Linked DNA regions of Homo sapiens. The protein of the gene in region 3 purifies or fractionates together with the protein of the main gene of each other region. This does not show direct contact. Each region holds a gene or a part of one and is shown on either strand. Other genes may lie near its edges.

Evidence for each region.
Region 1: the proteins of MINK1 (region 3) and HADHA purify together in Homo sapiens (affinity purification with mass spectrometry; 2 studies listed by BioGRID and IntAct, with this or other methods). This does not show direct contact.
Region 2: the proteins of MINK1 (region 3) and GPC4 purify together in Homo sapiens (affinity purification with mass spectrometry; 2 studies listed by BioGRID and IntAct, with this or other methods). This does not show direct contact.

What each region holds. Positions count from the first base shown.
Region 1 is NC_000002.12:26,195,894-26,199,646, forward strand, and holds part of HADHA (trifunctional enzyme subunit alpha, mitochondrial precursor), read right to left. Parts: intron 1,885-3,753; coding exon 1,798-1,884; intron 1-1,797. UniProt on the Homo sapiens protein: Mitochondrial trifunctional enzyme catalyzes the last three of the four reactions of the mitochondrial beta-oxidation pathway.
Region 2 is NC_000023.11:133,324,828-133,328,580, reverse strand, and holds part of GPC4 (glypican-4 precursor), read left to right. Parts: intron 1-3,753. UniProt on the Homo sapiens protein: Cell surface proteoglycan that bears heparan sulfate. May be involved in the development of kidney tubules and of the central nervous system.
Region 3 is NC_000017.11:4,836,312-4,840,064, forward strand, and holds part of MINK1 (misshapen-like kinase 1), read left to right. Parts: intron 1-3,753. UniProt on the Homo sapiens protein: Serine/threonine kinase which acts as a negative regulator of Ras-related Rap2-mediated signal transduction to control neuronal structure and AMPA receptor trafficking.

The DNA.
Region 1 (3,753 bases), on a different chromosome or scaffold from region 3:
TGATGCGTGCTAAGGTTTCAGAGAAACCCCTCATTGAGCTAACAGTTACATAGTCTTCCCAACAGAACTGTGGTGAAAGAAGTCTAATTCATTAATTTATAGTTTTGCTTTCTCCCTCTCACTTTAGCTATAAGGTACAACAAGTGATATCTGTAATTTTTGGCTGCTCATTATCTACCTGCTCTTCAATACATTTACCACTTATTCCTTACATTTAATCCATTACAACCCTATGAACTGGTCAGCCTAATTATCTAGATGAGGAAAAAAGGTATCAAGAGGTTAGTAGTACAGAGTCAGTCAGCATATGACGGGGTGGGATTCCATCACAGGTCTGTCTATCTCCAATGCCATTATGTAATACACAGATCAAGTAAATGTTATGTAAACTTATCAATCCAAAAGTTGTTTCTAACCCCTAAAGTGTTCTTTTACTTACATCTGAAATACTTAGGACCTGATTCAGACTCAGTACTCCTGAGCAAAAGGAATTAGCCTTTATTGATGTAGAATTTCTATATAATAAAATGCACAGATCTTGAAGTGTTCACATCAATGAGTTTTGACAACTGTATATACATCCATATAATCACTAACCCAAGCAAAATATATTTACATCACTCAGAAAGTTGTGCCAAAGATGACCAACTCATCCTGGATGGCTGGGGATTTCCCAATTTGTGGCACTGAGGGTCCTGTATCCCTTGCTCCCGGGCAAACCAAGATGGTTGGTCACCCTATTTTGTCTTTTTGGCCTTACTTTTAAATGAATGACAAAAGGCAAGCAGGTGAGAAAAGCTGTCCTAGATACTTGGAGGGCAGAACTGCAAAGTGTGATGCTTGCTCTGCTCCGATGGCGGGGAGAGGTTACCATCAAATGAACAGCAACGGCATCGCCTGTACTGATTTTAGATGCCACACAGATGTCTTGAGTGATATGACATGGCCAGACTGTCCATCTGTAGACTATCGGCTGCAACTTCTCCCTATGACCTTTAGCCTGCCATCATTGAGCCTGCCTCTGTCAGGTCCCCGCATCACTTCTAATCTGCTGTGTGCTAGGAAACTAGATTACCTTGCATTAGCAAGCTAGAAGAGTAGGAATAAATAGGCTTTTGTGTTTTCAGTACATAGAATTTGTATTAACACTTTCAGCTGCTTAAAGTTCTTTTATAATTCCTGCCTACCTTCGGCTGGTTCTGGTTAGCAGAGGCTAACTGGTATCCTCCAGAGAAGTGAGTTGTTTTACTTCTCTTTGAATGATTTCACTTCCCCTTAATTACTCTGGTTGAGAGCAAAAATAAATTTCTGGGCATCATTCCAAATACTCACAGAAAGTGCTTCTATACCCAGCCCTTTCATGTCCCGGGGTAGAAGGTGTAAGCAAACCCACGGGCAGACACATCCCACCATTCCTGCCATTCCCTGATCTGGAGGTGGAACCAAACCTGTTCTAAACAGTCACTGACTCTGCTCTGTAGCCAAACTGGTATTTTGGAGCATCCTTTCTTAAGGCCTATCCTTCAATGCCTAATTCTAGGATACAGGTGGGCTTTATATCCTGAACCTGAAAAATAATGCCCATTTGGGATCCTTGAAAAGGATATTTTTTGTTGTACTTAACTTACTCCTGCATCTCACACTAGTCATGGTATTAGCATTTATTGTGTCCAGTGTTTAGGAACCACCCGCATCCACTCCGTAATCCACTGTCTCTTCTGTACTCAAGCTGTAAGCCTTTATCAGTGAATCTGAAGCAATAAAACATCTCAGGGTTTTTCTCTGTTCCGAGTTTACCTTCTCAGGTCTTTTGCTGACAGCAGCGATTTCACTGATTGGGAGAGCAGATGTGTTACTGGCAAAGATACAGTGATCTGGAATCACCTGCAGGGGAAAAGCATTTAACAATGTGTCAGGTAGGCCTGGGAGATGATTAGAGGCCACATCAAAGCTAATGAGTGACACCTGGGCCCAGCCCACTCTGTCCCCCACAACTGCTCAGACAGTAGATGTCACTCACCCAGACATTGACGGATCACCTAGGGGGTTTTGTGTCGGGGAATATGTTGACCTTGTTCCTTTTCCCATTCTGCCTTCCTCTAGTTATGGCCCATCATAAGGTCACCTTATCCTGACCTGGAGACTACATCTCAGCAGTTGGGTCAATAAAACAGCTTAGAACAACACTGAAAAGACGGCCTTGAATTGCAATTCATTGATTTCAACACCCAGCATGGGTGTCACCTCCTCTTTTGTTTGGATCTGCCCTGAATCACTCCCCGCTTCACCTTTATAAGAACAAGCCAAAATGTGCATGCTTGTCTCATTTTATACAGTGTGTTACTAAAAAACGGCATACCACTATAGTTGCAGCTACAGTACACAAATACTATTAACTATTAGCTTTATCCACCTGGAGAATAGTCTCTAATGCAGATTGTCTCCGCATTCTGGCCACGATCCCAACTTATTCATGTTTTTTTTTTGTTTTTTTTTTTTAAAGACAGAGTCTCGCTCTGTTGCCCAGGCTGGAGTGTAGTGGTGCAATCTAGGCTCGCTGCAACCTCCGCCTCCCAGTTATTCATGTTTTTATTCAGATGGTTGGATGAGAAACGTGGAAGGGACACCTGTCAAATGTGTGCAAATCTGGAACAGGCAGAATCCTAACAGAGATGAGAATCAAGGAGGAAGACACATTCAACACACTGAAAAGCTGAGTACAAAATAAGATTATAATGCAATAAAAGTAAAGTACTGCCTTAAGATTTAAAAAAAAAAGGAAAGAAAAGAACTGTATAGGTACTTGAAGGACAAGACCTGGCTTGGCAGTATTTGTGATAAAGATCCCATGATTTTAGTTAATCAAGAGTGGAGGGTGGGCATGGTGGCTAAACAACTATAATCCCAACACTTCAGGAGGCCAAGGATGGAGGATTACTTGAGGCCAGGAGTTCAAGACCAACCTCGGCATCATAGTGAGACCCTATATCTACAAAACATAACTTTTTTTTTTTTTTTGGAGACAAAGTCTTGCTTTTTCGCCCAGGCTAGAGTGCAGTGGTGCAATCTCAGCTCACCGCAAGCTTTGCCGCCTGGGTTCAAGCAATTCTCCTGCCTCAGCCTCCCGAGTAGCTGGGATTACAGGCACCTGCCACCATGCCTGGCTAATTTTTTTGTAGTTTTTAGTAAAGACAGGGTTTCATCATCTTGGCCAGGCTGGTCTTGAACTCCTGACCTCGTGATCCACCCGCCTCAGCATCCCAAAGTGCTGGGATTACAGGTGTGAGCCACAGTGCCCGGCCCTACAAAAAATAACTTTAAAAAACTAGCCAGGCATGGTGGTACATACCCATAGTCCTAGTTACTCAGGAGGCTGAAGTGAGAGGCTCGCTTGAGCCCAGGAGTTCAAGGTTACAGTGAGCTGTGATCATGCCACTGCACTCCAGCCTGGGTGACAGAGTGAGACCCTGTCTCTAACAACAAAAAAACAAAACAAAAGTGGAATGAATTGACAGTACAGCATGACTGTCAGAAAGCTTACGTAGTGTCAGGTTACTTTCTTAGTAATATAGTGTCTAATGCTGGTGGTGAAATCCTTTCTGAAGAGCAAACTAATGTCTCCAAAGCTGGCTGGCAAACATTCTTCCCTTCCTTGGACATGTATGTCTTTTCTCCCAGCTAGAAGTAGAGTCTGTTTCCCTTCTCCTTGAATCTGGGCTGGTCTTGTGACTTGTTTTTATCAACACAATGCAG
Region 2 (3,753 bases), on a different chromosome or scaffold from region 3:
TGATGGCTGTGGACCAGGATCTGAATGGCTAATTTATGCTTCATTCCTCATTGTAGAAGTAAATGTCATGGGAATAGAAAGGAGGATTGGGGATGTGAAAGAATTATGCAAGAACATGCGAGCTGCTAGTTTAATAGGAGGAACAGATGCAAAAGGATTTTTTCTCCTTCTTTCTAATAGCAAATTATTATGCTTTGGTTGATATTGTACCCAATTGCTATGGATTTTAGAATTTAAATGATGTCTGCCATCCTTATGAGGTCCCTTTGAGGCAAAAGGCATAGGTAGAATAGTCCCAAGCAACAGGGCTAGTAAGAATCCATCTAAAAAGAAATGAGTCTGGGTCTTCTGGATCCCCTGATTTTTGTCTGGTTGACTCTCATAGATTAAATATATGAATATTTAGGAACTTTTTGTATGTAGTGAGGGATTAACAATTTTATAGATGTTTAAAAAAATCTCTGGTATTCTCATAAAACCGTATGTGGAGAGTGGCAGTGTATGGTAAAGGTGAATTGGATGGGGGAAATTTGTCTTACCAGAAATTTTCATTATGGTCTGATTGTGCAAGAAGAAGGTTAAGATGCATGGCAAAACACCATGTGCTTTGATTTGAGCCCATAAGAGCCACTCAGTACATACTTGTCAAATTGCATACCCATTTGGAGAAATTATGACGTTTTAACTCATTATTATCAGTTTTATAGAATTTCTCAAGCATTTATTAACCATATGCTCACCCAAATGGTCTTCATATTTGCAACTTATATAGCCACATTAAAGAGTCTTTTAAAATGTGAAGGAAAGAAAATAAATTTTCTGAATGATGAAATGAATTAGGATTTAGTATGTATATAGCACCAACCTAGGCTCTTAAAGTACACGCTAGCATAAACACACACACACACACACACACACACACACACACACACACACACACACACTTTCCTGGACAGAATGTGAGTCATGGAAACCAAAGTATGGTCCATGGTGGGTGTCGGACAGGGGCATGTCAGTTTCAAATCATTCTCCTCTTCATTAGGCCATTTCTCTTGTACTCCAAAGTAGCTATGTTATATATGGCTGCATCCACCCATAAGCTCTTGACCTGAATGAGGAACTCCAAGATTGATAATATTTTACTTTTTCTGTAAAGTGTTCAGTGATTTAGTGTTTGTTTGACTTGCAGCACTTTGTCAAAAGGCTAAACTTTGACATTTATTAGAAGTTTTAAATTAAAACTAAGCTTGAAATGTCACACCGCACCTCGCCCCACCCCTAAAAACCAACATGACTCTAGGTGACGTTCCTTAAAAATGCAAGTGAGTTTTGAGAATTACTTACTAAATGAGTCTGAAAGCACAACTCAAATAATTCTGAATGTCCAATTTCTGCTGATATGTGCCAATTTTATGAGCAATATAATAAAAATTCAATATAAGGAAGGACATGTGGTAGCTGTTGGAATCCACTCTTTTTGGTCATGAAATATTAATAGCACTGGATTGACACACAAGGCTTGCATATTGTTCTCAATGATGGCAAAGCTTTGTTTTTCCAATATGTGATAGCTATGTGTGCAACACACTGGTCATATAATAACGCAATCCACGTGTGCCTTTTATGCCCTCCATGAGCAATCACCACTTGGCAAGGATGCTAGCAAAATTCAAGCATGGTGTGGGACATGGACCAGATGACATTTAAGGTCCCTTCTCAACTTTGAACTCTAGAAAAGTACTGCATACATTTAATCATCTATGTTAACACTTAGTTGAGAGAGTTCCACACAAGAAAATTTGTCCCCAAGACAATAAAAAAGTCATTCCTAGGAATGCAATAAATTTATTTAAAAACACAATTCATTGGAAAGACATTTTCTCTTAATTAAAACATTAATGCTTGTCCTGACTGCTTCATACTCAACACAGCCCCTGAGTTGTTGGTGATTGCAACTGATAGGTGAAATGGGAGAAGTTTCAGCAGCTAGAGCAGTTGTTTTCCAACTTTAGGGTATATCAGAATCACAGATAGCTGAAAATTTTGGCCTGTCCACCAAGCCATTTGGCCTGTGGACAAGTCAGTTGGCTAGCTGGTGCTGAGAGTGCCCATAGTAAAAATGGAATGATGCCCAGCAAAAGGGACCCTCCAGGGTTTCTGATTCAGTAACTCTGGGGTGGGGCCAAGAATTTGCATTTATAGCAAGTGTCCAAGTGATGCTGATCCTGCTGGTCCCAGGCCCACACTTTGAGAACCACTCAGGGGATTTTGGAGAAAATAAAAGGCCATCCCAGGTAGCTGATTGGTATGCTTCTTATATTGTTCACCTAACTCTTTGTGCAGTTTCTGCCCTCTCACTTTCAGGGAGAGAGCTTTGGTAAAAATGTCAGGCTGCACACTTGTAATGGGGATGAGTTGACCTGCCTATTTGTTTACTATGCAGAGGAAGTCCATTTCCCTTTCTTTCTCTGAAGAAAGCCCAGTAAATAAAAGGCAAGCAATAGAAGGGAAAAGAACTAGATAAAAGGAAAAGGAGAGAAGCAAAGAAAAAAAAAAAACACAAGCCATACCTACAATGTTTGAAAAGCTGGAACCAGGGAGGACTGTGGACTTCATCCTCAGGCCTCAAGGAATAACTAAGTGATGAGTTAGGGGCTGAGAGACATAGGTATAGAATCTCTTGGCATGTCAGGAGAGTCACACACATACATCTCCCTGCAAAAGTATTCAGTTTCCTCAGTCCAGGTTTTGAAAAGCTATTTGGTATTAGTGGCCAGTCTCTGAGTTGCCCACCCAATGTGAGAAGAGAATGGTTTTGTAGAACTATTGCATTTTGATAAGCTCACCAATGTTCTGGCTTTGAAGTAGGTGTCATATTTTCTTTTCTGTTCCATATTTACTCAGAGGCAGTTTCTTATTTGATGTGGTCCTTATATTTTGCTTTGGTATTTGTTATATTTCCTGCTTATAAACTTGATATCATGAGGTGTTTATTTTTATACCAGGCAAGAGATTCTTTAAGAATGATTAATGTTACAAATACACTTTTGGCTTGTTTTTTCATTGAAGTTCCTGAGGAAAGCTTCAGAAGAAAACTAGTTTGCCATTTGTAGTTAAGAGATTAAAATCTCTAACCTTAGGCTGTGGCTGTATGGTGGCCAAAAAGTAAATCTGAAATAACCAGGTATTCTCATTTACATTTTTCAGTTTTTTTCATGTTGTCTCATAAATATGCTATATTTATTATTAAGTCCATTATGCATGTGCTCTCTCTCTCTCTGTCTCTCTCTCTCACACACACACACTCACACACACACTATCAGAAGGAACATTGAAAAGAGTCTCATGATGTTATTGTATAAATCCTTTAGAAACCCAGGATCAAGCTGGATACTCCCAATTTGTACTACTGTCACAGAGAAACACCCAGGAACTTATTTTCAGAAAACTTATGTGCTTGCTTGTAGGGGTGTTTGATTATGTTTTTTGGCCTCAACCATTTTCCAGGCAGCTATAGTGCATGATCATATAGATAAGTGAAAAGGAGAAATGAAAAAAAAATTCAGGCCCAAGTAAAATAACGACTTTTGAAAACACCTGTCCTGCTCTTAGGTTACAATTAGAAGGCATGGTTAACTTTGGCTTAGATTCTTAAGTAAAAAGTTGAGGGAAATCTCATGTTTTAGACTTCATGTGCACATTTTTTCCAGTTTTTCTTTATTCACCTATGACAGAGAGAAAGTGAGAGAGAGA
Region 3 (3,753 bases):
GTCTGATATTAGGGAAGATTGAATTGCGTTAATCTCTTAGCCATGTGTGGGGAGGCCAGATGGACCTGCTACTTTGTAGCCACAGCCACACTTGACCTCTTTGAGGTTCCTTTTCTCCACCAGCCTGGCTGCAGCGTGGTGAGGAAAAGCATGTGGTTTGAAGTTGCAGCCCTGAGTTCAAGTCCTAGTTTCTTCCCTTACAATGTAACCCTGGCCCTGCTCCCCTTACTGCAGATTCTGCCAAGAGCCTTACCCTCTCTAAGCTTCATTCAGTCCTGTATCGTGGGCATGGTAATAGTACTGAATGCAGAGTTGCTGAGGATTAAATGCACGTTAAGTACATAGTACAGTTCCCAGCACACAGTGATCATATATGTGATAGCCCTTTTTGCAGTTATTTTTATCAAATGGCAATCAGAGAAGCCTTCCAGGACAACTTTATCTAAAATAGCACTCCCTCCTCTGCTTTATTTTTATACAAAATTTTATATAGCATTCCCTTAGTCTGCTTTATCCTTCCTCATAGTATTTATCACCAGCTGACATATATATTCCTGTCAGCCCCACTAAAATGTCAGTTCAGTGGCCGGGTGTGGTAGCTCACGACCGTAATCCCAGCACTTTGGGAGGCCGAGGCAGATGGATCACCTGAGAGGTCAGAAGTTCGAGACCAGCCTGGCCAACATGGTAAAACCCCATCTCTACTAAAAAAAAAATACAAAAAAATTAGCCAGGCATGGTGGCGCACACCTGTAATCCCAGTTACTCGGGAGGCTGAGGCAGGAGAATCACTTGAACCTTGGAGGTGGAGGCTGCAGTGAGCCAAGATTGCACCACTGCACTCCAGCTTGGGCGACAAAGCCAGACTCTGTTTCAAACAACAACAACAACTACAACAAACAGTTCGGTGAAAGCTAAGATTTTGGCTGTTTTGTTCATTTTTGTATCCCCAGTGCCTGTAAGCATGTTTTGCACATAATGGGGGCTCAAACGTTTGTTGCAGAAGTGCCTCTTACAACACGTGCCACTTACAACACAGTGCAGTGCTTGCTTAGAGAAAGTATTCAATAAACCCCAGGCTTCTTAGGCTTCATTTTGCCCCTCTTTTATTTATGCACAATTAAGAATATATTTTTTCTGGGATGTTTTTAGAATCAGACCTTGTCTGGGGTAAACAGTTCTGGAAGCCTCCAGCTGAGCGATGCCCTTGAAGTAAAGTTAGGATCATCCAAGAGAAAATGTGGGCCTCTGTGTCTAAGCTTGGTTATATTCCAGGAGAACCTTCTGACTTGGAACTCTTGGCTTCTCACAAAGGATAAATATCAGTGGAAGTGGATGGGACAAGGAGGGGGCAGGCCCCGGCCTGACCTCTTTCCTTTTGCATTGCTCCTTTTGGTTGACCCACTTCGTAAATCAAACAGCTTCTTTTTACCATCCAGCTCGAAGTTTGACTGCAGTGTCCTTGAAACTGTGGAGCTATGCTTAGCGTCGCTGGATTGAAATCATAGCATGGAGCACATTCAAGGAGGACTTGTTGCTCGGTGGTAGCTGCTGACAGAGATGTTCTTTTTCAAATGATTTTGTGTTGTTGTGTCTGTTCTTTGGATAAGTGTCTTCGCCTTCCTCCTCTCTTCATGCGGCTGTGGAGCCAGCACCACTCGGAAAGCTGGCAGTTCTGGGCATGTATTTCTAGGCTGCTGAGCAACGTGGGACTGCCTCTGTGTTCTGATGTGCTAGCTGTCCAAATGTTGATGACAGATGCCTTAGGCAGGAGAATGGGAAGAGTGACCTCCTGCTGCAGAAGTAAGGACATTCAATAGTGACTTTTTTCCCCTGGAAAATTGCAAAAGGGGAATGGGGCTGTTTGGAGAGCTCGAGGCATTTAGATGAAGTGAAATGCTGCCTTGGCAAAATGACGGAAGGAAGATTACTGAGAACTTGGCTGAAACTAGGTGATCAGTCATTCCCCAAACAGAGGGAGAGACATCCCCACCCTTTATGCTATGGGATAGGACAGTTTGCCATAGTCCTTAGGGATATACACAGCAGGGAGGTTTTGACAGTTAAGATAACAGTAAGGTCAGCAAGAGAGCCAGCTGGCCCACCCCCTCACTCTTGCCCCAGGAGCTCAATTAAAACTCTGCTGGGTAGAATCCTGACTTCACATCTGGCCTCCATTCCTTTCCGCATTGAACTGTGTGCCTAAGACAGGGTAGCACACACAACTTGCACATGTAAACCATCTTTGTTTGTCATTTAGGGGACATGATGGCAGGAAGTGTGCAGCCGCTCTTGATAAGCTTGTATTCTGGTGTAGGTCTGTAGATAAGGCATGCAGTAACCTCTCAACCCAGAAACATAAAGCAATTCTGGACTGGAGAACATCTCCAGAAGCCGGTGAGAGTCTGCCTGTCTAATATTTCTGTCTCCAGACAAAGTTGAATCAGAGAAAGTTATCAATAATCCCCTGTCCTCCACCAGTCAGTCGCCAAGCATTGGCAGTCTATGTATTGAGAATCAGGTTCCAGATTCTATGGAAAGGATGTAATATAGTACTCAGTCCTCTACTAAGCTATTTAACCAGATCTCTGGGGACATCCACCCAAGCAAAGCAATGCCTTTCCAAGCCTAGACTCTTTTTTTTTTTTTTGAGACGCAGTCTCGCACTGTCGCCCAGGCTGGAGTGCAGTGGCGCGATCTTGGCTCACTGCAAGCTCCACCTCCCAGGTTCACGCCATTCTCCTGCTTCAGCCTCCCGAGTAGCTGGGACTATAGGCGCCCGCCACAATGCCTGGCTAATTTTTTGTATTTTTAGTAGAGACGGGGTTTCACCGTGTTAGCCAGGATGGTCTTGATCTCCTGACCTTGTAATCTGCCCGCCTCAGCCTCCCAAAGTGCTGGGATTACAGGCGCGAGCCACCGTGCCCGGCCTAGACTCTTTTTCTTAACTGTTACTGTTTTCCTCAATATCCTGCAACCTTCAAGGTTGGGACATTTTTGTTAAACCTGATTTCCATGAATTACACTCATTTTCTGTGGTCAGTGGGCAGTCATCTTGAAACCTGGTCTTCAGCCCCACTCCCTTCGACACCTACTTTTTACTACTATCTGTCTCAGTCTTCTCTTTCCTGGATTGAAGACAGAACAAAAGTGATCAGGTTAATAAGTCAACTCTCAAAGCATTTCTTGAATTCACACAGAGTATAGTAAGATACAAAAACGTGACTTGGTAGAAGACTTGGATCCTGTCCACAGCTCACGGCCATTTGCTCTCTCCAGTTCTTTTGCCATTCTCCTCCGAACCAACCAGTCCTTGACTTGAGACTGGGCTTCTCTTATCTATAGGAAGCTCTTCTAGGGGGTAATGGAAAAAGGGTTTTGAGGCTCTTTGTTCTTACTAAGGGCGGGAATAGTAAAGGGAGGAGAGAAAAGAGGGATGGAATTGTAGTGACCCAAGAGAGCCCCTGGAGATTTTGTCCAGTGGCTAGACAGCCTGAGGTTGTACGTGCTACGTGTGGGTAGGATTTTGTGTTCTGTTTGAGGAAAGATCTAGAACTAGGCACAGAGGACACAGTGGTGATACAGTCTAGTAGTAGGGAGAGACATTAATCAAGTAATTATTTATTAATGTGTGTGTGTGTGTGTGTGTGTGTGTGTGTGTGTGTGTGTGTGTGATTGCAAGCCATGATAAGGACTGTAGTGAAAACTTTAACATGCCGTGGGCACATATAACAAGAGTTGTTTTGAGCATAT